7 linked regions of the Homo sapiens genome follow. The protein of the gene in region 4 purifies or fractionates together with the protein of the main gene of each other region. This does not show direct contact. Each region holds a gene or a part of one and is shown on either strand. Other genes may lie near its edges. The genes, in order: STK25, IFT81, PDXDC1, ARL13B, IFT46, IFT52 and SACS.

What was found.
Region 1: the proteins of ARL13B (region 4) and STK25 purify together in Homo sapiens (affinity purification with mass spectrometry; 3 studies listed by BioGRID and IntAct, with this or other methods). This does not show direct contact.
Region 2: the proteins of ARL13B (region 4) and IFT81 purify together in Homo sapiens (affinity purification with mass spectrometry; 4 studies listed by BioGRID and IntAct, with this or other methods). This does not show direct contact.
Region 3: the proteins of ARL13B (region 4) and PDXDC1 purify together in Homo sapiens (affinity purification with mass spectrometry; 2 studies listed by BioGRID and IntAct, with this or other methods). This does not show direct contact.
Region 5: the proteins of ARL13B (region 4) and IFT46 purify together in Homo sapiens (affinity purification with mass spectrometry; 4 studies listed by BioGRID and IntAct, with this or other methods). This does not show direct contact.
Region 6: the proteins of ARL13B (region 4) and IFT52 purify together in Homo sapiens (affinity purification with mass spectrometry; 4 studies listed by BioGRID and IntAct, with this or other methods). This does not show direct contact.
Region 7: the proteins of ARL13B (region 4) and SACS purify together in Homo sapiens (co-immunoprecipitation; one large-scale study listed by IntAct). This does not show direct contact.

Annotation. Positions count from the first base shown.
Region 1 is NC_000002.12:241,492,037-241,495,851, reverse strand, and holds the end of STK25 (serine/threonine-protein kinase 25), read left to right. Parts: intron 1-150; coding exon 151-190; 3' UTR 191-1,726; coding exon of another isoform or gene 1,727-1,844; 3' UTR 1,845-2,403; coding exon of another isoform or gene 2,404-2,559; 3' UTR 2,560-2,815; coding exon of another isoform or gene 2,816-2,923; 3' UTR 2,924-3,182; downstream 3,183-3,815. Other genes in the region: FARP2 (FERM, ARHGEF and pleckstrin domain-containing protein 2), read right to left, coding at 1,727-1,844, 2,408-2,559, 2,816-2,923. UniProt on the Homo sapiens protein: Oxidant stress-activated serine/threonine kinase that may play a role in the response to environmental stress.
Region 2 is NC_000012.12:110,134,065-110,138,171, forward strand, and holds part of IFT81 (intraflagellar transport protein 81 homolog), read left to right. Parts: intron 1-883; coding exon 884-949; intron 950-1,262; coding exon 1,263-1,373; intron 1,374-2,711; coding exon 2,712-2,796; intron 2,797-4,107. UniProt on the Homo sapiens protein: Component of the intraflagellar transport (IFT) complex B: together with IFT74, forms a tubulin-binding module that specifically mediates transport of tubulin within the cilium. Binds tubulin via its CH (calponin-homology)-like region.
Region 3 is NC_000016.10:15,030,423-15,034,529, reverse strand, and holds part of PDXDC1 (pyridoxal-dependent decarboxylase domain-containing protein 1), read right to left. Parts: intron 2,796-4,107; coding exon 2,624-2,795; intron 1,670-2,623; coding exon 1,551-1,669; intron 1,253-1,550; coding exon 1,131-1,252; intron 245-1,130; coding exon 152-244; intron 74-151; coding exon 1-73.
Region 4 is NC_000003.12:93,978,513-93,983,347, reverse strand, and holds the start of ARL13B (ADP-ribosylation factor-like protein 13B), read right to left. Parts: upstream 3,194-4,835; 5' UTR 2,925-3,193; coding exon 2,866-2,924; intron 1-2,865. UniProt on the Homo sapiens protein: Cilium-specific protein required to control the microtubule-based, ciliary axoneme structure. May act by maintaining the association between IFT subcomplexes A and B. Binds GTP but is not able to hydrolyze fit; the GTPase activity remains unclear.
Region 5 is NC_000011.10:118,548,722-118,552,828, reverse strand, and holds part of IFT46 (intraflagellar transport protein 46 homolog), read left to right. Parts: intron 1-493; coding exon 494-615; intron 616-976; coding exon 977-1,043; intron 1,044-4,107. UniProt on the Homo sapiens protein: Forms part of a complex involved in intraflagellar transport (IFT), the bi-directional movement of particles required for the assembly, maintenance and functioning of primary cilia. May play a role in chondrocyte maturation and skeletogenesis.
Region 6 is NC_000020.11:43,593,937-43,598,043, forward strand, and holds part of IFT52 (intraflagellar transport protein 52 homolog), read left to right. Parts: intron 1-756; 5' UTR 757-762; coding exon 763-881; intron 882-2,498; coding exon 2,499-2,586; intron 2,587-4,107. UniProt on the Homo sapiens protein: Involved in ciliogenesis as part of a complex involved in intraflagellar transport (IFT), the bi-directional movement of particles required for the assembly, maintenance and functioning of primary cilia. Required for the anterograde transport of IFT88.
Region 7 is NC_000013.11:23,423,544-23,427,650, reverse strand, and holds part of SACS (sacsin), read left to right. Parts: exon of another isoform or gene 1-684; intron 685-4,107. UniProt on the Homo sapiens protein: Co-chaperone which acts as a regulator of the Hsp70 chaperone machinery and may be involved in the processing of other ataxia-linked proteins.

The sequences.
Region 1 (3,815 bases), on a different chromosome or scaffold from region 4:
CTCCTGAGACCCTGTGCATTGGGGACACCTTCAGACCCACGTGGTGCGGTGGCTTGTCAGGGCTGCCACCGCAGACTGCACACCCAAGAGGCCGTCAGGAGCCTGGGCACAGAGGTGCACGCACGCAGCAGTGGGCTCTTCTCTCTGCAGGTTTTCACACAACAGAAACCACCTGACATCCACCCGCTGAAGCGCACTGCTGTTCAGATAGGGGACGGAAGGTCGTTTGTTTTTGTTCTGAGCTCCATAAGAACTGTGCTGACTTGGAAGGTGCCCTGTGCTATGTCGTGCCTGCAGGGACACGTCGGATCCCGTGGGCCTCACATGCCAGGTCACCAGGTCACCGTCTCCTTCCACCCCTGCAGTGTGCTGTTGTGCACGTCAGGGACGCTGTTCTCTATGCCCACTGCCCTCCTCCCTCTCCTGGCCCAGCAGTATTGCTCACGGGGGCTCCAGCCGCCGGCGTGGCCCTCATGAGCTACGCCTGGGTCTTCTGCAGACTCATGCAGCCCTATGGCCGCTCAGACCAAGGCGCAGAGCAACTATCAGGGCAGCTCTGCCTCCTCCTCCCATGAGGTGGGGAGAGGCAACAGGGCAGCCCCCAGAGGAGTGTCCTGGCCGCTGTCCTCCCGGGGCCCATGATGGCCATAGATTTGCCTTGTGGTGTTGGATCAGGTACTGTGTCTGCTCATAAGTACTTGTGTCATCCAGAATGTTTTGTTTTTTAAGAAAATTGAATTACTTGTTTCCTGAAATATTCTGAGGTTAATATGTTAGTTTTCATAGAACATTGAGAGGCCCCTGCCACTTTCAATAAAGACCTGACTTGGAGACATGCAGGTGTGTGTGGTGGGGCCCGGGCCATGCGGGGCTGCAGCGTCCCTGGTCCCGAGTCCTCATCACAGCACGCAGAGACGGCAGCCCAGCCCCCCTTCGAAACTTCCCTGTGACGGATTCCTGGGCTCTGCTTGGCCCACCGGAAGAACAGAGCAGGCAGAGGAGAATGCAGGTGGGGAGATGCTGTTTGTTTATTTTTAATCAAATGTGTGTGAACAAAGCAGTCGCCCATCTACTTCCCGTTGGAAGGAATGCTGGGCAGTAATAAATTAGACGGCCCCACCCTCCCAGGGCACAGGGGGACTTTGGTTTCTGCTTCTCTAGAGGTACATGGGGAACAAGCGTGGCTTCTGCCAGACTTGTTTAGCTGTGACCTGCAGGGCAGGCCCCTGGGGCTGCCACTTGGTTCACCAGATGGAAGGTCAGCATGGCTGTGCCACGCTTGTCTGAGAGGGTCCTGGCAGTGGGTACGCAGGGTGTATGGCAGGGCCTCTTTTCCAGTGCTTGCTCTAGGCCAGTCCTCGGCAGGGACCCTGCTCTGGGGAGAGAGGCAGGGTGTGCCCAGGCTTTGGTCCGATGCCGAGAGCACTGCTCAGGCCTTGTCTGCGTCTTTGAGCCAGGGGCCTGGGAGCTGTGGCTTGAGCGGCTCCGCGCTCAAGACTCGCACATTTTTCCCAGGGCCCCAGATAGCTGCTGGCATGCACTAGGTCCTGGGTGGGGGGATGAAGCCCCTCCCAGATGTTACATGAGGCCCACCCACACTGCTGGTGCCAGTGGGGATCCAGTGAGACCACAGCCACTTCCCATCTGTTGAGAAGCCTCAGGACAGAGGTCACCTCTGTGTCCTGCTGTTCTTTGTAGTTGTGTCCAAACCTGGGCAGGTTGAGCGTCATTCCTCCTTCCCCCTGACCATCCCCTCCAGCCCTGAGGAGGGTTGGGGGCCATCCTGCACGATGCTTGGGGCCCTCCCGGCTGAGCTGCTGGCCCCCTGGATCACCTCCATCCACCTGGAGGAGAGGGCGGCCATCAGACCAGTGAGCCATCTTGTGCTCAGACACTGTCCCAAGAACAACCCAGGATATGGGACAAGCAGGACAAAAGAAGGGTTAAAAACCTGGGGCCGGGTGCGGTGGCTCATGCCTATAATCCCAGCACTTTGGGAGGCTGAGGCAGATGGATCACTTGAGGTCAGGAGTTCGAGACCAGCCTGGCCAACATGGTGAAACCCTGTCTCTACTAAAAATACAAAAATTAGCCAGGCGGCGTGGCGTGCATGCCTGTAATCTCAGTTACTCAGGAGGCTGAGGCAGAAGAATCGCTTGAACCCTGGAGGTGCAGGTTATAGTGAGCCAAGATTGTATCACTGCACTCCAGCCTGAGTGACAGAGGGAGACGCCATCTCCAAAAAAAAAAAAAACAAAGCATTGCTGTTTTTTGGAAATGCTGGAAGCATTGCTCAGCCCTTCCTTTCCAGGGCCCAGAAAACTTGCCTCCACCACCATGAGTAGAAATGGGAGCTGAGCGGACATCGAAATGGGCAGCTGACCAGGGCTGCCTCCTGCAAAATTACCTTTCAAATGTGTACTTGCTCTCAGCCCGGAAGAAGTAGACGTGGGATTTGAACTGGAGCTTGAAAACATAGTCTTTGTGTATGCCATCGGCCTCCCTGGGGATGCTCACGCTGTAGCCCAGCAGCGGGAGGCTGGCCAGTGGGTAGTCATCCTGCAAGACAGCATAGGGACACGGGTTCCAGGGGCTGGGTTGCCACAGGGAATGCCCATTCCTCTGCTACCTGCACAACGGTGGCACGTACAAATGCCCACGGGCCAAGGGAGCCAGTTTCCCTGTTCACACAGCACAGGGTGTGTGGGCAAAGCATGGGAGGGCAGAACCAAAATACAAAAGGGACACAGGTGAGCAGGGTTAAGTGTCTGTCTGCTAGCATCACCTGCATTGGGCTCCAGTGAAACTCCAGTACCTGATGAGTTTTGTAGAAGAACAAACAGAAGTTGGTAAAGACGACCCAGAGCTTCTGCCAGCCATGACTGTTTTTGAACTTTCTTAGCAGATATCCTGAAAGCTGGTTCTGTCAATAAAGGAAAAATGCAGGTGCATTAACCAGCACCCAGGACCCCTTGTGGGAGTGGGTTTGCTCCCCAAGACTAAGCCTCTGCATGCTTTCTCCAGCTGAGGCCTTGGTTTTACCTCTGGACTGCTATGAACAGCAGCTTTATCAGTACTTAAGTCCAACAGAAGCATGTTAAAAACCTAGAGTGACATTCCAGGCACCAAGTAAAGTGAGTTCCCTTTCCCTGTGCACAATAAAGTCAGTGTTCAGTAACCAACCATCCACAAACCCATCCAACAGCCAGAAGAGAGAAGATACCTTAAGAGACAGTACATTGAGCCAAGTCTGGAAGGTTCTTTAAAATGATGGGTGGGGGAGAGGCAAGTAAAGGCACACACAAGATGCCCCACTGCAGCCCTGTCCCTAAGCATGTGGCATCTGTTCTGCCAGGATTAGGCATGGCTTTGGCGCTGGAGTGGCTGGGCTCATGGGGCTCACATGAGCCTCCCGCCTTCAGGGTGGTATTCAGGGGTTGCACTCTAAGATGGCGGAGCGGGCCTAGCTAGGACCCTGCTTAGATCTCAGGTGTCCTGGACTGGCCATAAGCTGGTGGGCCCAGGTCAGGGACCTGCTGCACCCTGACCTACCCAGGGTCATCAGGGGAGAGGCTCGGGCTCAGCCCCCTCACGGGGGTGCTGGGGTAGCTCCTGAGCCCCTGCCCAGCCGATTGTGGCTGGGGTGAATTATGGGGAGACAGCAAAAAAGACAAGAGCTCTGGGTGGAGTAAGACAGCAGGCTTGGGGAAGGGTGTGGGGGCACCAGGCTGAGGAACCTGGTGACCCACAATGGCAGACCGGGCCCATGCAGTGAGATAGAGCTGACAACCTTCTATGGCAGGGTGCCTGGGCAG
Region 2 (4,107 bases), on a different chromosome or scaffold from region 4:
ATCTTGGCTCACTGCAACCTCCACCTCCTGGGTTCAAGCGATTCTCCTGCCTCAGCCTCCCAAGTAGCTGGGATTACAGGCACTTGCCACCACGCCTGGCTAGTTTTGTATTTTTAGTAGAGACAAAATTTCAACATGTTGGCCAGGCTATATTTTAAGACTTTTGATATTGTTCTTCAGTACAGTGCTATCGGTAATGAGTAAGAGTGCCCATTTTTCCAAATTCTGTCAATACTGACTACCGTGTATATTTTACCTTTACTATTACTGCGATATTTAAGCTATTAGTTTTTTAGATTTAGGAAGGAGTTTTTTTATTTGTTTGTTTTTATAACAAAATACTATGAAGCTGGTTAACAGGAAGGAAGTTTATTTTTGAAGTCTTTATTTTCAGAGACGGAATTGGTTCATTGGAAAAACCAGGTACAAACTTATGTCATGAAAATACCATAGCCTTAAAAATAATTTTGATGGAAAATTGGCAAAATATATGGCTTGGTATTTAACAGAACAGATGGGATGTCAGCAGCTGTTGTTCATGTATTTAGACCTGCACACTTTCCATTATAGAAAATTTTTCAAAAATCATGTGCCCATATTTGGAATCAGAACACAAATGTGCTGGTTGGCAGCTTTACCTTGCTGCATTATAACTGGTTTTTGTTGCATTTCTGGATGAACACCAAGCTGCCAAAAAAATTACCCTGCATAAGAAGCCCTGGGGGAAAAATAGAAATGACCTTCATCCAAAAGAGGATCTTGGTTGTTAATGCTGTGGTTATAAATGATGAAAATGTTAGATGCATAATCAAAATAAAACCTTATCTGTTTCCTACAGACTGAGAATACTTTTTCTTATAAGGTCTTCTTTGCCACTTTTTAGGATATCAGTGCAATGGAAGAAGAAAAGGATCAGCTCATTAAGAGAGTTGAACATTTGAAGAAAAGGGTAAGGCAGAATTAGTACTGTAAGACTTTGGCCCCAAGTCCCAAGGACTTGCAAAGATTTAGGAATGCAAATAAAGATTCAGCCAAGCATGAGTGTACATCTGAGGATGGACTCAAATAACATTGACGAAAAGGGAATCTCTCTAGACAGTAGCCCAGCACTTTCAAGGACCTGGAGCCTAGAGCTTTACTGTCATCTCTAGGGAGTACTGTTTACCAAAAGGAAATGATAAGTGGATGTCTGAGTCACATGACATGCTAATTTTTTTCTTCAAACCTGACAGTAACATGTACTACTTATTCCCTTACTGTAGGTTGAGACAGCTCAGAATCATCAATGGATGCTTAAAATAGCAAGGCAACTTCGAGTTGAAAAAGAGAGAGAAGAATATCTTGCACAACAGAAACAGGAACAAAAGAATCAGGTATCCACATAAAAGTTTATATTCTCAGTATGAAGGAAATAGTTCCTTCTCATAATCCAAATGTAAAGAAAAGAGTTTTAAAATTGTAGACGTTCACGTTCCTTTTGCTAACATAATGGAATACTCTTTTAATTAAGATAAATATTTCAGGCCGGGTGCAGTGGCTAACACCTGTAATCCCAGCACTTTGGGAGGCTGAGGCGGGCGAATCAGGAGGTCAGGAGTTCAAGACCAGCCTGGCCAGCACAGTGAAACCCTGTCTGTACTAAAAATATAAAAATTAGCTGGGCATGGTGGCACATGCCTGTAGTCCCAGCTACTCCAGAGGCTGAGGCAGGAGAATCACTTGAACCCAGGAAGTGGAGGTTGAGGTGAGCTGAGATCACGCCACCACACTCCAGCTTAGGCAACAGAGTGAGACTTTGTCTGAAAAAAAAAAAAAAAAAAAGATAAATATTTTGTGGCAACAACAATACCACTTTTTGGGTTTTATACTCTGAATTGTATCTATACACTGTCTTTTGGCCTATGCTTACCTCGTGTTGTTCCAACATTACAGAAGAGTCATTGTAATGTTAACAGTAAGATTAACTGCTAATAAAACTTCTAGAATCTCTACAGGATGCTTTTAGATTCCAGGGCTATGAGACCATTCTTTTTATTCCAGTGATCACAGTACCCTCTGCAGTTTACTACAATGGCAAATAAGTCATGAAAAGGCTCAAAATCACCTACACTCCATGTTTTTAAACTTTGCCTTAAAGAAAAATAATTTGCTAAGAAATTATTACTTTTACTTATTAAAAATCTATTTTAAAATCTGAGTAGACTTATACATTAAAATATATTTCACATAAGCTTCATTTACTACTAAATCAGCAGTTTAAATGTTTGATTTTGCTGGCACTTGACTTGGCATCGAAGTAGTTTCACTGCAGCAGTAAGCTGCATCGCCTAAGCCCTGAATGGTTACTTGGCGTTGGTTTGTGATTCTGAAACATCACTATATCAATGTTAACATTACTTGGCCTTAAGAAAACCATGTATAACAAGAAAAATCTGGTGTGTGTGTTTCTTTGATAAGTATTTTTCCTTAAACCGCAAATTCAGTAAATAACTAAAGAAAAATTTGTGAAAACTTCCTTAAAAAATGTATGTGAAAAGGTATTGAGAGAACCAGTTACATTTTGGGTTTAATATGGGAATTTTCCGAGTTCTTATTATTTGTTCCTTTTATATCATAAGAATTATATGGAACTTGTATTTTTCATTGCTTGCCTAAGTGAGAGGTAAGCTTCAGTAGACTAAGCAAGTAATCTATTTAATTGTATTTTAAAGCTATTTCATGCAGTGCAAAGATTGCAAAGAGTACAAAACCAGCTGAAAAGCATGCGCCAAGCTGCAGCAGATGCAAAGCCTGAAAGTAAGTGGAAATTATTATATGGTATAGATGATTAGAAAATATTAATTTAAATCACGATCTTCCTAAAAAATCAATTTGTGAGAATTAGTTATCATCAAGTGATGTCTCAGCATTTTGGAACATCATTTCCTAGCTGGAGAAGGAGAGCCCTGATAAAGACATCCCTGGGTTTTCACCAGATGTTTTTAAAAATTCCTAACCAGATGGCCGGGTGCAGTGGCTCATGCCTATAATCCCAGCACTTTGGGAGCCCGAGGTGGCGAGAGGTCAGGAGTTCGAGACCAGCCTAGCCAACATGGCGAAACCCCATCTCTACTAAACATACAAAAATTAGCAGAGCGTGGTGGTGGGTGCCTGTAATCCCAGCTACTCAGGGGGCTGAGGCAGGAGAATCACTTGAATCTGGGAGGCAGAGGTTGCAGTGAGCCGAGACCGCGCCACTGCAGCCCAGCCTGGGCGACAGAGCGAGACTCCATCTTAACAGCAACAACAAACAATTCCTAACCAGTTTTTCACATCAGAGAGTGAAGATAATGAAAACAACTGTGGAGGGAGGCTGTCTGGTTTGTGCTTGTATAAAGGACTTAGCATGGCTGGGCGTGGTAGCTCACACTTATAATCCCAGCACTTTAGGAGGCTGAGGCGGGTGGATCACTTGAGGTCAGGAGTTCGAGACCAACCTGGCCAACATGGTGAAACCCTGTTTCTACTAAAAGTACAAAAAAATTAGCTGGGCATGATGTCATGTGCCTATAATCTCAGCTACTCAGGATGCTGCGGCAGGAGAATTGCTTGAACCTAGAAGGCAGAGGTTGCAGTGAGCCGAGATCGCGCCATTGTACTGCAGCCTGGGCGACAGACTGAGACTCTGTCTCAAGAAAAATAAATAAATAAATAAATAAATAAAGGACTTAGCATGGACGTTGTGAAAATGATGGTTGGAAAAATTATGAATCATTGTTTTAAAGCCAGGGCTATAAAGAAAAAGAATAGAATGCTGGATCCTTAAAACCGAGTGTTTTTCATATTTTGGTTTGTAGAATAACAGTGCTAATGACGTAGGTATCTCTGGCTCTGTTCTTACATTAGCTTAACACAGAGGATAAACTGTCCTAACAGCCCAGATTACACCACCAGATCCATCCTAGGCATTTTACAAAGCATTTTTGCTTGTCAGAAGAAAGACCACGCAAACTGAAAGAGCAGTGGAAAGCTCTCATTTGTACTGGAGAACTATCCCAATGTAAATAGCTGATAGAGGGTTAATTCATCTTTCTGTAGTAATCTATGAAATTCTACAAGAGCAGGGAG
Region 3 (4,107 bases), on a different chromosome or scaffold from region 4:
CCTTCTGTAAAGCCTGGACCGGAGAAAACCAATTCAGCACGGAGCCCACTACAGGGATCTGCCGCAACACCCCCTGCAAGACAGGACCAGAGTTCAGGGCCACCTGGCCTCACGGCGGCTCCCCCAGCCTGCTGCCCATCGGGGGCCTCACCTCTTCCAGAAGCCGTTCTTCACTTGCCTTCTGCAGCTCCACTTGAGCTTCCTGAATGCCTTTCCGAACCACTTCTGTCATGTTTTCCAGAAGCTGTGGCAAGACCAAGAAAGACATTACTTGTTTAAGGTTCTCACCTGGGGCCCAGAAGAGCTAGTAACACAGCACTGAGGGAATTTTTCAAAAGCAGGTCAATGAAATCCTGCATTGAAAAGCCGGCGTAAAACGAACAGAAACTCAAAGACAAGCAGATAACATGCTCATAGAGGCCTAGGCAGACACACCTTGGTGACCAGCCTCATTTGCTACGTATTCTTGAAAACAGAGAAGTCATAAAGTCAGGCTGGAAAGAAACCTTAAGGAGTCCACCCAGAAAGGAATGAAGCTGGCTTCTCGGCCGCATGTCCAATGGCTCGTGTCTCTCTCCTTTCAGAGCAGTCTTACCTTGGTCCCTCTTCTCTCCTTTTGAGTGATTTTTAGGGAAGTAATCATCTGTTTGGAGGATACCTTATCAGCCTTGTATCCTGGTCCTCCATGCTAAGGGACCCACAGCAGTAGGTCTATTCCTGGTGGGAAGTGCTATAGGGAAGGGGTGTAGGGGGAACCACACATACAACAGCCCATTTCATTCACCCTCAGGACACAGCTCCAGAGCAGAAGTCCTCCCTGACCTTGGTGGCAGGGGTGAATGTGTCTGCCTGAGTGTCCAGCTACCCGCCCTCTTCTCTAAGGCAGGGTTACTACACAGCGTGGCTATGTGGATCTTTCCCCCTGAGCTTGTGAGATCACTGGGGCATGGGCTGTGTCAAACCTACTTGGCATCTCTGACACCTGGCACAAGGCCCAGCTTACAGGAAACATTGACAGACTTTGAGAGACAACGAACAGACATCCCAAGGGCAGCTGCTTTCCTCGTGGCCCCTGCTGTTTGGTGGGACAAAACTCAGAAGAGGAATGAACACTGATGGGTGCTACGGACCCTCGAGTTCTCCTCTATCTCCCGGGCTGTGGCCGCAATGGTCTCCACGAGCTCAGCAGCATCGACGTTGTCGCTCGCCATGCCGACATAAAGGCAGCTCTTCATGCTCTTATACTCAGGGCCTGCAAAGGTAACGAGACAAACTTGAGTTTCTCAGTCCTCTGTCATGGGTGAGACGTGGACCTACTCTCCTGTTCAGGGTCCTGACCACACACAAAGGGGTCTCCTCCATGGAGATTCTAAGGGCGGAGAGAAAGGCCTGGCAAGGCTGCAGAAGGGGAGGGAGGTCTCAGAACCGCATCTTCGCCTGGAACCCAGCCCGAGAGGCGCTAGCCCGCTAAGGGATGAGCCGTCGTCTTCAAAGCCGGTTACCAAGTGTCCTTCCAAACCCCACAGCTGACTTACAAAGTAAGCAGTTACCTATTTTAAAGGTTAGGTCAGATTCCAGTTCATTTAACTTCTTCAGGAGTCCAGCATGGATGTTTTCCCCTTCGGGATCTGATTTCAAACTGCTCTTATCATCATTAGCATGTTCATACCTAAAACAACATCAAACCACAGCATTTCAGCTTAAAAGATCAAATGTCTCTTCTGATACAGGATTAGAAACCTCTAAATATTAGCAAGACAATGCAGTGGAACCAGTGGGCAAAAGAGCTACTGCGAGTGTCTCCAGACCACAAACTTTCTGGAAGTGTGCCAGGAGTAAAGAGAAAGTCACAGGAAAGCCTTTTTTTTTTTTTTTTAAAGCAGGGTCTCACTTGGTGGCCCAGGCTGGGGTGCAGTGGCATGATCTTGGCTCACTGCAACCTCCACCTCCTGGGCTCAGTTGATCCTTCCATCTAAGCTTCCCGAGTAGCTGGGACTACAGGTGTGCACCACCACCTCTGGCTAATTTTTGTATTTTTTCTAGAGATGGGGTTTCGCCATGTTGTCCAGGCTGGACTCAAGCTCCTGGCCTCAAGTCATCTATGCTCCTGTTGGCCTCCCAAAGTGCTGGGATTACAGGCATGAGCCACCGTGCCCAGCTGAAAGCCTAAGTCTTTAGTTCCATACAAGGTCTGGAAGTCTCATGGGCAATACAAAAAGAGGTTTGCCTCACCTCTGAAGGCGAGAAAGCAGCCATAGGACTGCACCCAGTTCTCTCCCCGAGAGCTGGGTTCTTTTTCTTACTGATTTGCAATTCTCTATATGCCCTGGATAGTAACCATTCTCAGTGAGTGATATATACCTGTTGGCATCTTCTCCTAGGTAGCTGAGAGTCGGCACCTACAGACAGAACATTCAGCAACTCCCCTCCCTGAGCGCCACGCTGGCCAAATTGCCTGCTTGCACTGTGCTTTTGTAAATGCCCAGAAAACCGAGTTGCATTTTCGTTAAGCATATTGTGACTACACGTTCATCTTGGATTTCTAAGGTGGTTCAGAAAATGACCCACTCATGTTCTTTATACAGAAAAGTCTCCAACATCAAGCGGCAGGCCAAGACTTTACCTGACAACCCCTATTCCAGACCAGTTAGGGTCATCAACATATAGGAGACCTGCTGTTGCTTCCACTTCCTGCTTGAACTCTTCACGCAACTGGAGCGTACAGCACAGCACTGGCAGTTTGCTTTCTATGCAGGCTACGAGCTGATCCACATCCTCTCCCCGAGTTCCTAAAACTGAAGATGTTCACAATGTCAGAGAAATGCTCACGAGATGGCCAATGACAAGAGGGCAGGGCTCCCTCTTCCACTACTGGGAAGGTCAAAAGCTCGAGGTACTCCAGTTACCGGGAGCCATGGAGATTTAAACAAAAAAAGGCCCTCAACACAGATATGGAAGAATTAGGGTTAGAAACAGACACAGCTGGCTGTAGCAGGTGTGGAGTGTTTCTCTCACAGATGTGGCCCACAATGACATACTCCAGTGTTAGAAATCACTCTTCCCACAGCAAGCCTACTTCAGGCAGGCTGGAGACATCACACCATAGGTTCAGCACAAAAAGGCAACCACAGATTCTGTACATTCCTATGACTGAGAGAAAGGGAAGTACTGTGGTGGGCTGCTGTCCCCACACAGGAAGGACAGGGAGATGGTGACAGCGCCGGGCCTCAGGGCTCACTGGCTTACTTTTGCAGTTTTAGAGACTAAGTATCTAGAGCTGTGGCCAGGCAATCCTTATAGTGGCCAGTGCTTTGGGAATCTGAGCCAGGAGGATCACTTAAGGCCAGGAGTTCAAGAGCAGCCTGGGTGACAGAGTGAGACCACGTCTCTATGGAAAAAAAAAAAAAAAAAAAAAAATAGATGTGGTGGTGCTCGCCTGTAGTCCCAGCTCCTTGGGAGGCTGAGGCAGGGGATTGCTTGAGCCCAGGAGGTCGAGGTTGCAATGAGCTATGGTGAAGACACTGCATTCCAGCCAGGGTGACAAATGAGACCCTGTTTCTAAAAAAAAAATAAAAACCAAAACACAGATCCCCAGGCTCCATTCTAGAATCTCTGGGGGTGGGCGGCCACTGGTTGTGTGTAAAGCTCCCGGATGACTCTAATGTGCAGTGGGGAGTGAGAACCCTTGTAGTGGAAAATCGAGAGTCACAAGACATCAAAATATAGGAATTCCAGCCTGGCCAACGTGGCAAAACCCCATTTCTACAAAAAATGCAAAAATTAGTCCAGTGTGGTGGCTCATGCCTGTGGTCCCAACTCCTCGGGGGCTGAGGTGGGAAGATCACTTGAGCCCAGGAGGTCAAGGCTGCAGTGAGCCATGATCGCACCACTGCACTCCAGCCTGGGTGACAGAGCAAGACCCTGTCTCAACAACAACAAAAAAGGAATTCATGTGATGACTTTTTTTTTTTTTTTTTTTTTTTTTGAGATGGAGTCTCCTCTGTCCCCCAGGCTGGAGTGCAGTGGTGTAATCTCAGCTCACTGCAACCTCGGCCTCCCAGGTTCAAGTGATTCTCCTGCCTCAGCCTCCCAAGTAGCTGGGACTGC
Region 4 (4,835 bases):
CAGTACTCCACTAAGGGGGATGAAGCGTTAAACTTTTATAAGATCTTGACTGCTGACCTAGACTGGTGCCTTAACACTTGATCTCTGACTCCTGCCTTGTCCTTATCACACAAATCTAATCCCTGATTCCAATGTCTGGAATAATATGCTCACTAGGAAAGGATCTAAGTGAGGAGAGGTGAACAAATACAATGGGTACTGGGGTACAGAATGTATTAAACAAATCTGCAAAGTAATCTCAAATATAGTATATTAATAACCATCATCATCTCTTTTACAAATTCACTCCTCACATTTCATCTTCATAAAATATAAACATGAAGAGGAATCTTAATAAGAAATTCTACAGAAAACAAATATATACATAATAATCAAACAGGCAATTTCTGTTGAAAAAATAGAGAACACCATAAAAGCACAAAATTTTGTTTTTAAAATTAGCTTGCTCACCTCTCATTTATTCCAGTAAAATAAATGGAACTACTTGCTAATGTTATTTACTTCAGGATGATTATTACTAAGAAAAATCGAACTACATACAATATTTGGCAAATATTTATTCAGCCACTATTATAAATCAGGCATTGAACAAGGGGACTTAGAAGACAGGGGTAATCCAACTTGTGTTCAAATTCTTTGACAGTTATCCAAATTGAGATGTTTACCTATGTCCTTTATATTAGGCTATGATCCAGAGCAGTAAGATCCAACAGAAATGTTAACATAAGCAACATATACATTGAAATTCTCTAGTAATCTCATTTTTTAAAAAGTAAAAAAAAGTTAATTCTAATATATTATTTAACCTAGCATATGCAAAAGTTATCATTTCAACATGTAATCATACTTTTAAAAGACTGATAAGATGCTGACTTTTTTGCATAATAAATCTTTTTTCAAAGCCCACTATGTATTAAACATACACTTACAGCATCTTAATTCAGACTAGCCACATTTCAAGTGCTCAACAGCCACGTGTAGCTCGTTGTTACCCTACTGGACAGGACAAATCTAGATGGTGCTTATTAAAGAAGAAAATACACTCTGGGTTATGCAGCTAAATTTTAATAATGCTTTATTAAGAAAATTCAATTATCTGTTCTACTTGGAAATCAATACATTCTCCTTTCTCTGAACTCTTCTCTTTAAACAAATCATTCCAGAGAGTATATATACAAAAGCTGCTAAGAAAAGGAAAGACTAAGAATGATGAATTAAATTGAACACTCCTTCTTCGAATTACACGTTTTCACTGTTTCTCGTTAAAAGAACGTAAGTTATATACATGCCTTCACAGAAACCAAATACATTTCTTAAAAGCAGACACGGAGGAAAATGAGGGGTCAACTATTATGAATGACCCTCAAGTCTTAGTAGATACTGTGAAATTAGACCAGAATATAATTAAAGCAAATAAATCAGAATCTATGCACCTAAAACAACTCTTTGACTTTTTTCTTTTTTTTTTTTTTTTTTTTTTTTGAGACAGGGTTGCACTGTGTCACTCAGGGAGTGCAGCGATATCGGCTCACTGCAACCTCCGCCTCCCAGGCTCAAGTGATCCTACTGATTCAGCCTCCGAAGTAGCTTGGACTACAGGCGTGCGTCACCGTGCCCGTTTATTTTATTGTAGAAACGGGGTTTCGCCATATTGACCAGGCTGGTCTCGAACTCCAGGGCTCCAAAGATCGGCCAGCTTCGGCCTCCCAAAGTGCTGGGATTACAGGCGTGAGCCACCACACCCAGCCCATCTTTGACTTACAGAGTTGATCTTACTACTTATATTTAAAACATTCAAATTCAGTTAGGAGCTAATAATGGGGAAGAATCTCTAGTTTCATTTAAAGTTACTTTTTTTCCAATCTAGACATGTATTTTCTGTTATAATGTGTAAGTGTAGCTTTTCAGATTCATTCTTTAAAGGATAGTTCATTCTCATGGCAAATATACTTAAAATGTTAACAATTTAAAAAAAAAAACAACTTTGCTTTATCTTACCCTTGGCCCAATTCCAGACTAGAACTATGTGAAGTCAACATTATTTGTGTAACAAACACAAGATCTCTTTATAGGTTAGGCCTCAGTTTCAAAAGCATCAATTTCACTGATTATTTCCTAAGACAGTGCCTGGCACAAGGTATTGTCTTAATAAATATTTTTTGAATGAATGAATATCAAGTAACAGGTACTAATTATTAATACTTCCAGCATTTCAAAATGAAATGTTAAAAAGTGGACCCTTTCAATTAAAAGGTTTTACTAGAGACCGTATAAAAATTGGAAGCTACATTACAGTTAAGAAAACACTATCACTTGTTCTCATTGAATACAATATTTCTAAAGCAGAGTATTATCACTCTCATTTAATATTTAAGAAAGGTGGGGCCAAAATGGTTGAGTCATGTAATTATTAAGTAGTGGAGCCAGATTTCAAGCCCACGTCCTCAAATACAACTGTGTGGAGGTGTGACTTGGAATGGAATGTGCGGATATTATGAAAACTATATTCCATGTCCCCCTCTTTTTAAAAGAATTTCCATTACAAAAGCTTCAGAGGAAAAACACACAATGGATAGTTTTCAATTCCACACACACACACACACACACACACACACACACACTTTTTAACAAATTCAAACCTATTTAAAATATAACAACGGTAAGCATTGTCAATCGCAACAGAAAGTCGACCAGACAACAAGGCTACATCCTCCAATCTCTCCCTCCCGGGACACCCTGGGAATGAAAGCATCCCTTGCGGCCTGGGATAGACTCGTCCAGGCGCGGGGAAAAGGCGGCGCCTCGCCCCTGGGGCGCAGCCATCTCCAACCCCTAGGACGGCCAGGACAGCTGGCTCCAGCCTACCTGACAGGCTCCCGCCACCGCTTGAACCAGCCGCAGCAACTGGCCATCAGACTGAACATCCCGGGTCGCTCCTCCCACCACTTCCCATCCGAGCCCGGAGCGGACACCGGCACCCCGCTCTTCCCCGGGGGCCTCCGGCACTCCGAGACGCCCCTAAAGTGGATAAGTCGGGAGGAAAAGCCGGGAGGGAAGTGAAGGCGGCCGGCCCGAGCACTAAGCCTTGCTAACCGCGTGGGTCCGCGACGACTGCCCTCTTAGCCAAGGAACAACCTGACCAAAGACGCAGATACACCGTAGCCGAGTTAGCGGGACCCGGCTAAAGAAAAGCCCCGCGTCGACGTGCTGACGTTACTTCGAGGCGCGGAAGGCGTTCCCCAGGCAACGCCCGTACTGCGCTCGCCCAATCATCGGTTGAGGTCCTGAGGTAGAGGCCTCTGAGTGGCTGAAGAGTCCTGGCTACCCGCCCCTGCGCGAGACTAGGAAAAGAGAAAGGGGAGTACTCTATAAGAAGGAGGCGGAGCTCGAGGTAGCTCGTTCTCGTAACTAGGCAACCGGAGCGTCCGGAGATAAGCTGGAGGATCCGGGACAAATCTCCAGCAAGGCCTATCTTTATACCTACATAAAATGTGTTGCCAATCCACGGTGCTGTTCCTTTCCTTTCTCCAGTGTCCCCAACTGAGATTCAGAGATCTCAGGTCTTGTGCATGGGTTTTTCTTTTTCTTTCTTTCTTTTTTCTTGTTTTTTGTTTGTTTGTTTTTTGCTCAGGGATGGGGACCCTCTAGAATTCTGGCCGACTTAGGCAGCATGACTACAGGAACAATACACTGGGGCAATTCTTGTAAGTTAAAGACAAGGGGGAAATTCGCTTGCTAAATTTTCTCAGTAGTTCAGATGAGAGTGAAGCCTTAATCTCTAAAACGTTTATTACTGTTACATATGTGAAACGGAATTGTATGATATTTGTTGTAGGGGGGATTGTGATTACAAAAGAAAAATGCATTTCTTGTAGAAAATGTGAAAAATACTAAAAAGAAACAAGATGAAGAAAATGAGATCTCACAGGAGCTCTCAAAGATAACCATTTGGGGCCGGGCGCGGTGGCTCACGCCTGTAATCCCAGCACTTTGTGAGGCCGAGGCGGGCGGATCACGAGGCCAGGTGATCTAGACCATCCTGGCTAACATGGTGAAACCCCGTCTCTAGTAAAAATACAAAAAAAAAAAAACAAAAAAAAACAAAAACGGGTGTGGTGGCACGCGCCTGTAGTCCCAGCTACGCTGGAGACTGAGGCAGGGGAATTGCTTGAACCCGGGAGGCGGAGGTTGCAGTGAGCCGAGATCGCGCCACTGCACTCCAGTCTGGGCAACAGAGCAAGACTCCGTCTCAAAAATAAATAAATAACCATTTTGATGTATGTTTGTTTCAGGATTTTTAGGTACATAAATTGCTGGCTATTTGGTATCTGCAAGATGAAGATTGTTATCTCTTGACTGTTTTGTAATAGTTTATTTTTTAAAGAGGTATGTAATATTTGCATTTCTTTTATATACTTTGGAGAAAAAGAAATGACAAGGACATTCCTGTAGGGAAAAAATTATGCACAATATGTAGGGATCTGTGTGTCCATTCATTTTCTACTTAAATAAATATTTTCAAATCCTGATGAAAGGATAGAAGGCACTGAGAATCCCAGTGTATTCGCGGGGAATATAATGATTTGAGACTAAGATACATATAGGTTTTAAATTAGTCTCTGTCCTTTACTAAATCATGTAACTTTTTTTGGTTTTGTTTTGTTTTGTTTGAGACAGAGTCTCCCTCTATCACCCAGGTTGGAGTACAGTGGCATGATCTCGATTCACTGCAACCTCCGCTTCCTGGGGTCAAGTGATCCTCCTTCCTCAGTCTCCCAAGTAGCTGGGACTAGAGACGTGCACCATCACGCCCAGCTGATTTTTGTATTTTTTGT
Region 5 (4,107 bases), on a different chromosome or scaffold from region 4:
CAGGTGTGAGCCACTGCACTTGGCTTTTTTTTTTTTTAAAGACAGGATCTCGCTCTTGCCTAGGCTGGAGTGCAGTGGCACAGTCGTAGCTCACTGCAACCTCAAACGCCTGGGCTCAAGTGATCCTCTTGCCTCAGCCTCTCAAGTAGCTGAGACCACAGGCACACACCACCATGCCTGGCTAATTTTTAAATTTTTAGTACAGACAAGGTCTCACTATGTTGCCCAGGCTGGTCTTGAACTCCTAGCCTCAACTGATCCTCCCACCTCAGACTGCCAAAGTGCTAGGATTACAAGTGTGACCGCCATGCCTGGCCTGGCTGCAGCAGATTTTATCAGGGTTTTCTATCCCCTTCATTTGGCTACTGTTTCACGTGGCAGCAGCTGTCATCAGCAAGCTCGAATATGAAACAGCAGCAGATATAATGAGACACTGTAAAAACAAGAGAGCTACTTCAGTGCCATCAGCTAGGCTTTCTCCTTACTTTCCTAGCAACATATGAAAGTAAAAAGCCTAGAAGATGCAGAAAAGAATCCCAAAGCCATTGACACGTGGATTGAGAGCATCTCTGAATTACACCGTTCTAAGCCCCCTGCGACTGTGCACTACACCAGGTAAGAAATACCACATTCTTTGCAACAGTAACACATAGTAACCTTCACTACCTGTGAACTGTTGCTCCTGAGAAGAGGCCCAGAGGCTGGGAACATATTTGATCAACCTGAGGTCCTGTGGATCCTGGCAACTACTGGCTGAGATTGTAGACATAAAGATTGTAATTTCTCTAGTATTACTTAGCTACCTCCTCCAAACCCCAGGCCCTGGGTAACTTTGGTATGCCCAGTCTAGGTTCTCCTGAAGCCTTCCTGATGTGCCAGATTGAAGACCTCTCCTTCATCCTAGAATATGCTGATCCAGAGGTTGCTGATGTTATCAGTTCACGTTTCTTGTTCATATTTACCTTTATACTTTTAGGCCCATGCCCGACATTGACACGCTGATGCAGGAATGGTCCCCGGAGTTTGAAGAGCTTTTGGGCAAGGTGAGTGGAAGGTAGCAGGAGGTAGGGTAAGAAAGTACAGTATTCGCTCCAGGGCCCAGTGTTTTTTCTCTTCCTCCATTATTATTATTGGTAACTTTTTTTTTTTTTTTTTTTTGAGACAGGGTCTTGCTCTTCCCAGGCTGCAGTGCAGTGGCATGATCATGGCTCACTGCAGCCTCTACCTCCCGGGCTCAAGTGACCCTCCCACCTCAGCCTTACCAGTAGCTGGGACCACAGGCATGCACCACCACACTCAGCCATTTTTTTAATTTTTGGTAGAGACGAGGTCTTGCTTTGTTGCCCAGGCTGTTCTCAAACTCCTGGGCTCAAGCAGTCCTCCTTCCTCAGCCTCCCAAAGTGCTGGGATTACAGGCATGAGCCACTCCACCCAGCGATCATTAATTTTTTTTGTTGAGATGGAGTCTCTCTCTGTCGCCCAGGCTGGAGTGCAGTGGCATGATCTCAGCTCACGGCAACCTCCACCTCCCAATTCAAGTGATTCTCCTGCCTCAGCCTCTCGAGTAGCTGGGATTACAGGTGCCTGCCACCATGCCACCATGCTAATTTTTGTATTTTAGTAGAGAAAGGGTTTCACCATGTTGGCCAGGCTGGTCTCGAATTCCTGACCTCAAGTGATCCGTCTGCCTTGGCCTCCCAAAGTGCTAGGATTTCATTAACTTTTTAATGGTAACACAGGAAACCCATGTATATGTGGTAATTTGATATATAAGAAAGATAGTTTTTTTTTTTTTTTTTTGAGGCAGTCTCACTCTGTTGCCCAAGCTGGAGTGCAGTGGCATGATCTTGGCTCACTGCAACCTCCGTACCCCCCGCAGGTTCAAGCAATTCTCCTGCCTCAGCCTCCCAAGTAGCTGGGATTACAGGCATCTGCCACTGTGCCTGGCTAATTTTTGTATTTTTAGTAGAGACGGGGTTTCACCATCTTGGCCAGGCTGGTCTTGAACTCCTGACCTCGTGATCCACCCGCCTCTGCCTCCCAAAGTGCTGGGATTATAGGCGTGAGCCACCGCGCCTGGCCAAGAAAGATAGTTTTTTAAATGATTGGTGATAGAATTAGGGTATAATGAGACAATTATTTGAAAAAAATTAAAGTAGGTTTCTGCCTCAACTGTATACATATGTGAATTTCAGATGAATTAAAGAGTTAATGTGGGCCGGGCACAGTGGCTCATGCCTGTAGTCCTATAATTTTGGGAGGCTGAGGCGTGAAGATTGCTTGAGCTCAGGACCAGCGTGGGCAGCATAAGGAAACTCTGTTTCCAAAAATAAACAAATAAATAAAAGAAGGGAAAAAAAGAGTTATTGTAAAAATAAAGCCATGTAAGTAATATAATAAAATATAGGAGATACAGAAGGAGCATGACTGAAAAAATAAATGAAATAAAATATAGGAGAAATTTAATTATCTCTTTTTAAAAAATTCAAGTGTCTTATAACTTAGGGAAATTTAATTCTATTAGGATAGTTAGGTGTTTCTCAGTGTAATAAGAAACTTAAAAGTCATATTGAGGCCGGGTGCAGTGGCTTAGGCCAGGCGCGGTGGCTCACACCTGTAATCCCAGCACTTTGGGAGGCCGAGGCAGGTAGATCACCTGAGGTCAAGAGTTTGAGACCAGCCTGGCCAACATGGCGAAACCCCATCTCTACTAAAAAAATACAAAAATTAGCTGGGTGTGGTGGTGTGTGCCTGTAATCCCAGCTACTTGGGAGGCTGAGGCAGGAGAATCACTTGAACCCAGGGGCAGAGGAGGGCACGGAGGTTGCAGTGAGCAAAGATTGAGCAACTACACTCCAGCCTGGGTAATAGAGCGAGACTCCATCTCAAAAAAAAAAAAAAAAGTCATAATGGAGTGGGAGGCTGAGATGGGAGGATTGCTTGAGCCCAGGAGTTTGAGACCAGCCTGGGCAACATAGACCCATCTCTGTTAAAACCAAAAGAAAAGGCCAGCCACAGTGGCTCACGCCTGTAATCCCAGCACTTTGGGAGGCCGAGGCGGGCTGATCATGAGGTCAAGAGATCGAGACCATCCTAGCCAACATGGTGAAACCCCATCTCTACTAGAAATACAATAATTAGCCAGGCGTGGTGGTGCACACCTGTAGTCTCAGCTACTCGGGAGGCTGAGCCAGGAGAATCGCTTGAACCTGGGAGGCAGAGATTGCAGTGAGCCGAGATCGTGCCACTGCACTCCAGCCTGGTGACAGAGCGAGACTCTGTCTCAAAAAAAAAAAAAAAAAGTCATAATGGAGAAAATGTGACAGTTTAAACTCATAGAAATGAAAGGTTCTACATACCAATAGATACCATAAACAAAGTTAAAAGACAGTAGCAGTCTGAGAAAAAATATTTTATATATGTATGTAATAGAAAAAATTACTGTCCAAGCAAAGAGCTCTTATATATCAATAAGGAAAGGAAACTGGGCCAGGCACGGTAGCTCATACCTGTAAATCCCAGCACTTTGGGAGGCTGAGGTGGGACGATCACTTGAGGCCAGGAGTTCAGGACCGGTCTGGGCAACAATAGGAGACTCTTCTCTACAAAAAAAAAAGAAAAGAAAAAAGGAGCTGGACATGGTGGCTCATACCTATAATCCCAGCACTTTGGGAGGCTGAGGTGGGCGCATCACCTGAGGCCAGGAGTTCAAGACCAGCCTGGCCAACATGGCAAAACCCCGTTTCTACTAAAAAAATTAAAAAAATAGCTGGGTGTTGTGGCAGGCACCTGTAATCCCAGCTACTCAGGAGGCTGAGGCAGGAGAATCTCTTGAACCCAGGAGGGGTGCAGATGTTGCAGTGAGCCAAGATTGCATCACTGCACTCCAGCCTGGGTAATAGAGCAAGACTCCATCTCCAAAAAAAAAAAAAAAAGTCATAATGGAGTGGGAGGCCAAAATGGGAGGATTGCTTGAGCCCAGGAGTTTGAGACCAGTCTGGGCAACATAGACCCATCTCTATTAAAAGAAAAAAAAAAGGCCAGGTGCAGTGGCTCACACCTGTAATCCCAGCACTTTGGGAGGGCGAGGCAAGAGGTCAAGAGATC
Region 6 (4,107 bases), on a different chromosome or scaffold from region 4:
GGTGAAACAGGTGTTTCAGAATAATGCATATGGTAAGATCCTATTTCATAAAATAAAACTGTAAGTTAATATATGTATAAAAAGAATCTCGAGCTGGGTGCAGTGGCTCACACCTGTAATCCCAGCACTTTGGGAGGCCAAGGCAGGTGGATCATGAGGTCAGGAGTTTGAGACCAGCCTGACCAACATGGTGAAACCCCGTCTCTACTGAAAATACAAAAATTAGCTGGGCATGGTGACACGTGCCTGTAATCCTGGCAACTCAGGAGGCTGAGGCAGGAGAATCGCTTGAACCCGGGAGATGGAGGTTGCAGTGAGCCAAGATCACACCATTGCACTCCAACCTGGGAGACAGAGCAAGACTCCGTCTCAAAAAAAAGAAAAATAGAATCTAGAAGACTATACCCTGCGCTTAACAGTAGTTAGCAGTAATGAATCAGGATGGAAACATGGTCTTGGGACACAAGAGCAGGGTGATGGCAGGGCAGAGCCATAGGTGTAGGCTGTTGGGAGGATCTGGGCAAGAGGCAGAAAGCAAAAGCGGGTAGGGGAGGGCTGGGTTGGTTTTGGTCTTAGGTTTCTGTGCTATGCTTTTGCATTTCACTCTCAACCTTTGAGAATTGTAGGAGTTTCCTAGATAGGTTTCAGTTGTATACCCTTTCTTGATAAATTAGTAGTAGAAGGCAACTATTTATTACTTTTAGGGTCTTTGGAATATTGTTTATTGATTTTCTGATCCCATCTTTCTTCCATAAGGTAACCATGGAGAAAGAGCTGCGGAGCACCATTCTTTTCAATGCCTACAAAAAGGAGATATTTACCACCAACAATGGCTACAAATCCATGCAGAAAAAACTTCGGAGTAATTGGAAGATTCAGAGGTGACTGACCATGTATATTGTTTTCCCTTCTAAATGATATTGTCCTGCTGATAAAGCTGAGAAGTCTTTATTTTCTTAGGTAACATAGATTGTTTAGGTGGGAGAAGCTCAATTTAAAGATTATTCAGAATTAGGTCTGGCGTGGTGGCTCACACCTGTAATCCCAGCAGTTTGGGAGGCTGAGGCGGGCGGATCACGAGGTCAAGAGATCAAGACTGGCCGGCACGGTGGCTGACACCTGTAATCCCAGCACTTTGGGAGGCCAAGGCGGGTGGATCATGAGGTCATGGGTTCGAGACAAGCCTGGACAAGATGGTGAAACCCCATCGCTACTAAAAATTAAAAAAAAAATTAGCGAAGTGTGGTGGTGGGCGCCTGTAATCCCAGCTCCTTGGGAGGCTGAAGCAGAGAATTGCTTGAACCCGGGAGGCAGAGGTTGCAGTGAGCCGAGATTGTGCCACTGCGCTCCAGCCTGGGCAACAGAGTGAGACTCCGTCTCAAAAAAAAAAAAAAAAAAAAAAGAAAGATCAAGACCATCCTGGCCAACATGGCGAAACCCTGTCTCTACTAAAAATACAAAAATCAGCTGGGCATGATCGTGCGTGCCTATGGTCCCAGCTGCTCGGGAGGCTGAGGCAGGAGAATCGCTTAAATCCAGGAGGCGGAGGTTACAGTAAGCCGAGATTGCGCCACTGCACTCCAGCTTGGTGACAGAGCGAGACTCTGTCTAAAAAAATAAAAAAACATTATTCAGAATGAAATAAATTCTTATTAAAACGTCTCTTGGGCAGGACGCGGTGGCTCATGCCTGTAATCCCAGCACTTTGGGAGGCTGAAGCAGGCAGATCACTAGAGGTCAAGAGTTGGCGACCAGCCTGGCCTACATGGCAAAACCTCATCTCTACTGAAAATACAAAAATTAGCCAGACATGATGGTGCATGCCTATAATCCCAGCTACTAAGGAGGCTGAGGCACAAGAATCCCTTGAACCCAGGAAGTGAATGCCTGCAGTGAGCCGAGATCATGCCACTGCACTCCAGCCTGGGAAACAGAGGGAGACTCTGTCAAAAACAAAAATTAAAAAAAAAATGTCTTTCGAAATCAGCAATTAGGATATTATTAAAGCAGCATATTATTAAGTTGTTTTCCAAATCACAAGCCAAAAGATTATTCTAATTATACACATGTAGCTTTTTAAGATGTTAGAGGCTTTCTTCATATTTTGACTCAGGTCAGTACTAGGGAAAGGAAACATGAGAATTAAATGAGAATAACTTTGTGTATGTGCATGTTTTTCTTAATAGGTGAGGATATGTAATCATACAAGCTAATGGTAGGGCTGATTGAATTAGTAGTTGCAGACTTCCTTATGCTTTAGCATGGCTTGATTTGAACACCTTGACTTACTGGAAGTATTTGAACAGAGGCCAGATGACTCTGGGGCAGGCCTGTAGAGGGAATTCTCACTTTGGGAGAGAGACTGGACCAGTTACCTCTAAATCCCTTCATCTCTGAGCCTCTGTGGCCTCTGCTTCCAAATAGTTAAGAGACTAAAATAATACATAAATTGGTTTAAATTATGGACTTCATATTTGCTTTTAAAATTGTATTTCCAGCTTAAAAGATGAAATCACATCTGAGAAGTTAAATGGAGTGAAACTGTGGATTACAGCTGGGCCAAGGGAAAAATTTACTGCAGCTGAGGTAAGAAATATCCACTAAAGAAGGAATATGGTGAAATGATTAGGAGTCTGAGCTTTGAAATACCGGATTTGAATCCCCCTTCACCACTTACTGTGTGGCCTTAAGGTAGTCACTTCATCTCTCTTTTCATCATGGAGTTGTGATGATTAACTGAGATACTCCATGTAAAGTACCAAACACATAGTGTGGGCCAATTAAATATTAGCCACACTTCTTTTTTTTTTTTTTTTTTTTTTTGAGACAGAGTCTCGCTCTGTCGCCGAGGCTGGAGTGCAGTGGCGCAATCTCGGCTCACTGCAACCTCCACCTCCCGGGTTCAAGCAATTCTCACTGCCTCAGCCTCCTGAGTAGCTGGGACTACAGGTGCCCACCACCACGCCCGGCTAATTTTTGTATTTTTGGTGCAGATGGGGTCTCACCATATTGGCCAGGCTGGTCTCAAACTCCTGACCTTGTGATCTGCCTACCTCAGCCTCCCAAAGTGCTGGGATTACAGGTGTGAGCCACCGAGCCCAGCCAGTAGCCACATTTCTTTGCTATATTTTTGCTTTGAAAATAGGAAAATTCCGCCAGGCGCGGTGGCTCACACCTGTAATCCCAACACTTTGGGAGGCCGAGGCAGGCAGATCACCTGAGGTCGGGAGTTCAAGACCACCCTGACCAACATGGAGAAACCCCGTCTCTACTAAAAATACAAAATTAGCCAGGCGTGGTGGCGCATTCCTGTAATCCCAGCTACATGAGAGGCTGAGGCAGGAGAATCGCTTGAACCTGGGAGGCGGAGCTTGCTGTGTGCCAAGATCGCGCCATCTCACTCCAGCCTGGGCAACAAGAGCAAAACTCCATCTCAAAAAAAAAAAAAGAAAGAAAATAGGAATTCATTTAAAATAAAAGTGTTTATTATTCTAGTTCATGGAATGGATAAAGAATGATAAATGTAAGGCCCAGAATACAAATGACAAGTATTGGTGAGAATGGGAAGTTATTGGAACCCTTCCACACTGATGGTGGGAATGTAAAATGATGCAGTCACCATGAAAAACAGTATGGTAGTTCCTCAAAAATTTAAGCATAAAATTGCCATATGATGGCTGTGTGTGGTGGCCCACGCCTGTAATCCCAGCACTTTGGGAGGCTGAGAAGGGTGGATCACTTGAGGTCAGGAGTTCGAGACTAGCCTGGCCAACATGGTGAAACCTCATCTCTACTAAAAATACAAAAATTAGCCGGGCGTGATGGTGTGCGCCTGTAATCCCAACTACTTGGGAGGCTGAGGCAGGAGAATCACTTGAACCTGGGAGGCGGAGTTGCAGCGAGCAGAGATCGGGCCACTGCACTCCAGCGTTGGCAACAGAGTGAGACTCTTTCAAAAAAAAAAAAAAAAAAAAACTGCCATATGATCTAGCAATTCCACTTCTGGGTATATGCCCAAAAGAATGGAAAACCAGATCTCAGAGATAGTTGCACACCTATCTTCCTAGCAGCGCTATTCACAATAGCCAAAAGGTGGAAATAGCCCAA
Region 7 (4,107 bases), on a different chromosome or scaffold from region 4:
TCCCATTATTTATACAATAGTTATGATTTAAGTCCCCAGTCTCCTGGCTGTTCCTGTTTGAAACTGTGTAACTCAAAGAACTTTTCCCATCAGTGAGTAAGTGCAGCTGGCATGTTTATCTTCCTACTCCTTAAATGAGATCATATGTACAGTAGTGCCAAGTTTTCCTACTGTGGGTCAAGCCCATATGCCAAAATAGGATATTTTTGCTGGGAAGGCCAAGAGGTCACTGCGTGGCACATCTGCTTGCTAGCTGTGGGCAGTGGCTTGAGGTTCCAAGCTGGGGAGGAGGGGAGCCCCTGTCCCTAACAGCTGCTGGACAGCACTGATTGTTTTGACCCCTGAAGCATGAGAGGAGGTCATGAATCAGTGGGCAGAGAGTATCATGAACACATTTCATGTCACTTCATGTGTTAAAAAATATTAGATCAGCAAAAGTAGTAGCATCTAATATTTGCAAAAACCGTCTGCAGTTGACTAAATGCTGTTAGAACACAGCTCAGTTTGGTGTTGCGGTGATACAGTTCATGGATAAGGCAAGCTGGCCCTGTTTAGGGATGAGGAAAGTTGGGCACAGCGAGATTATGCGATTCTCAAGCCATGGTGAGGAGAAGACCGAAGAATGTTCTCTTCCATCAGGTGGTGCTACTCCCCAAATGGTAGGGTAGAAGCAGCGTTCCTCTTCTGAAAAGAAAGAGAAGGAGGAAGAAGGAAATGAGGTTTGAGGGGGTGAAAGGAAAATATCTTAGGCCCCCAAAATCACTAAGGAAAACTCAACCCAGGAACTGCTTAGGGCAAACCTGCCTCCCATTCTATTCAAAGTCACTCCTCTGCTCTCTGAGATAGATGCATATCTGATTTGCCTCCGTTGGAAAGGCTAATCAGAAACTCAGAAGAATGCAACCACTTGTGTATCACCTGTCTGACTCACTTCCAGTCTTCTTGCTTTTGCTTCAAGTTGTCCCCCCTTTCCAGACCAAACCAATGTACTTCTTTTTTTTTTTTTTTTTTGAGACGGAGTCTCACTCTGTCACCCAGGCTGGAGTGCAATGGCATCATCTCAGCTCACTGCAACCTCCACCTCCCGAGTTCAAGCAATTCTTCCATCTCAGCCTCCCGAGTAGCTGGGATTACAGGCACCCACCATCATGCCGGGCTAAATTTTGTATTTTCGTAGAGACGGGGTTTCACCATGTTGGCCAGGCTGGTCTTGAACTCCTGACCTCAGGTGATCTGCCCGCCTTGGCTTCCCAAAGTGCTGGGATTACAGGCGTGGGCCACTGCACCTGGCCTGTACTTCTTACATATACTAACTGATGTCTCATGTCTCCCTGAATGTATAAAACCAAGCTGTGCCCTGACCACCTTGGGCAAATGTCATCAGGACTTCCTGAGGCTGTGTAAGGGGTGCGTCCTCAACCTTGACAAAATAAACTTTATAAATTAACTGAGACCTGTCTCAGATTTTCTGGGCTCACTGAAGTCCTATACTTGTGTCAGGCACTCAGTCGTGGGGAATAAGTAAGAGCTGGGAGCCACCGGGATTTAAACGAAGTATGGGCTGTTGCTGGACTCTTCTGGACACCAGTTTCCTTCTCTGTATAATGAAATTCACAATTCCCTACCAAATCACTAGGCTGTTATGAGACTGAAATAAGATCATCCCTATGAAATCACTTTAACAAATCTAAAATACCATGCCCCTGCAAGGTAATCTTATTGTATTGCATTTTAATTTTACTACCAGTATCATTCCAATTGTATAAAAATTTTGTATATACTAATATTCTCTGCCTTGTCACACAGACCCCCGGCGGCCATGCTCTAGCTCATAGGCACGAGCCCACTCCCGCAGGGAGTCAGGCGGGGTGGAGCTTCGGGGCCCCAAGTCCAGCACCCACCTGAGATCTTCACACCCTGAGCAGAGCAGTCGGGGCAACTTAACTGGGCACCAAGTGGGCAAAAATGGCGCCTTCCCCACCACATGTGCAGAAGGGTGAATTCCTGGATGTTGAGGGGTGGGGGCACAGAAACTCCCTGCCCGCTCTCCCCAGGAAGAGGGCAGGGCCCATGGGGACAAGGATTCCCACCTCTTCCCCACCACCATGGACATAAGGCCTTAGTGGACACCAAGGCCCCAGCACGACATCAGGCCCCAAACGACACTGGACTCTAGGTGGACACTGGACATCAGACACCAGGTTGATGCCAGGCCCTAGTCAAGTGGACTCCAGTCCCTGCATAAACATCAGGTCCCAGTTTGGCACATAGGCCCCAGGTGGACACCAGGCCCCTGGTGGATGCCCAGGTTAATACCAGGCCCCAGGTGGACACAAGGTCCCAGGTACATTCAGGTCCCGGGTGGAAACCAGGCCCCAGATGGACATCGGGCATCTGTATGTCAGGTCCCAGGTGGACACATAGGCCCCAAGTGGATGTCTAGTCCCCAGGTAAATACCAGGGCCAAGGTGAACAGGAGGCCCCAGGTGGACACCCTGACCCCAGAGGACCATCCAGCTCGAGGTGGACGTCAGGCCCCAAGTGGACACCAGTGTCCAGATGGACATCAGGCCCCAGGTAGACACTCGACTTGAGGTGTACACCAAGCACCAGGCTCACGCCCAGGCCCCCGATGGATACAATGAAACAACAGGTTCCATTCAGTGATATAATAAAGCACATCCCAAAGCTCCTTCACCCATATCTTCATGATAATTAACTGAGCTGGATAGTCACATGTTCATATATAGGCCTAATAACCTCAGAAATGTAATTGTTTAGATTCTACAAAACCTGTGTTTGGACTTGTTTAATGGAAACTCAGGTTCCATTCAGTGATTTAAAACAGCACATCACAAAGCTTCTTTGTACATAGCTTGGTTTTCGTTATTAGTACTGGACGTTCATATGTTGATATATAGGCCTGATAGCCCCTGAAATGTCATATCTGAGATTCTACAAAACATGTGTTTGGAACTTGCTTCATGGAAACACAGGTTCCATTCATTTATATAAAACAGCACATCAGAAAGTTTCTCCTCACATAGCTTGTTTTTCATTATTAGGGCTGAAAATCTATGTAGGTACAATAGTCTCTGAAATCTCATTTCCTTTTTTTTTTTTTTGAGACAGAGTTTCCCACTTGTTGCCCAGGCTGGAGGGCAGTGGCGTGATCTCGGCTCGCTGCAACCTCCGCCTCCCGGGTTCAAGTGATTCTCCTGCCTCAGCCTCCCAAGTAGTTGGGATTACAGGCATGCGCCACCATGCCCGGCTAATTTTGTATTTTTAGTAGAGCCGGGGTTTTTCCATGTTAGCCAGGCTGCTCTCGAACTCCCGACCTCAGGTGATCTGCCCGCTTTGGCCTCCCAAAGTTCTGGGATTATAGGCGTGAGCCACCATGCCCGGCCTGAAATCTCCTTTCTTAGATTCTCCAAAACATATGTTTGGAAATTGTATAATGGAGATTCCAGTTGCATTCAGTGATATAATAAAGCACATCAGAAAGCTTCTTCACACATAGCTTGTTTCTAGTTATTAGTAGTGGATATGTGTATATTCATATATAAACCCAATAACCTCTGAAATGTCATTTTTGTAGATTCTACAAAACATGTTTGAAACTTGTTTCATAAAAACACAGGTTCCATTCAGTGATATAAAACAGCACATCACAAAGCTGTTTTTAGTTATTAGGGATGGATACTCGTATATTCATATATAGGATAATATCCTCTGAAATGTCATTGCTTAGGTTCTAAAAAATGAGTGCTTGTAACTTGTTTAACAAAAACACTGGTTCTTCTCATTCATATGAAATAGTACATCCCAAAGCTCAAAGCTTCTTCACACATAGCTTGCTTTTAGTTATTAAGGCTCCGTATTTTTATATATAGGCCTAATAGTTTATATATAGGCCTAATAGCTTCTGAAATCTCATTAATTAGATTCCACAAAATGTGTGTTTGGAACTTGTTTAATGAAAACTCACGTCCCATTCAGCGATATAATAAAGCACATCACAAATGTTCTTTGCACATAGCTGTTTCTAGTTATTAGGGCTGGATATTAGTAGGTTCATATAGAGGCCTAATAATCTCTGCAATGTCA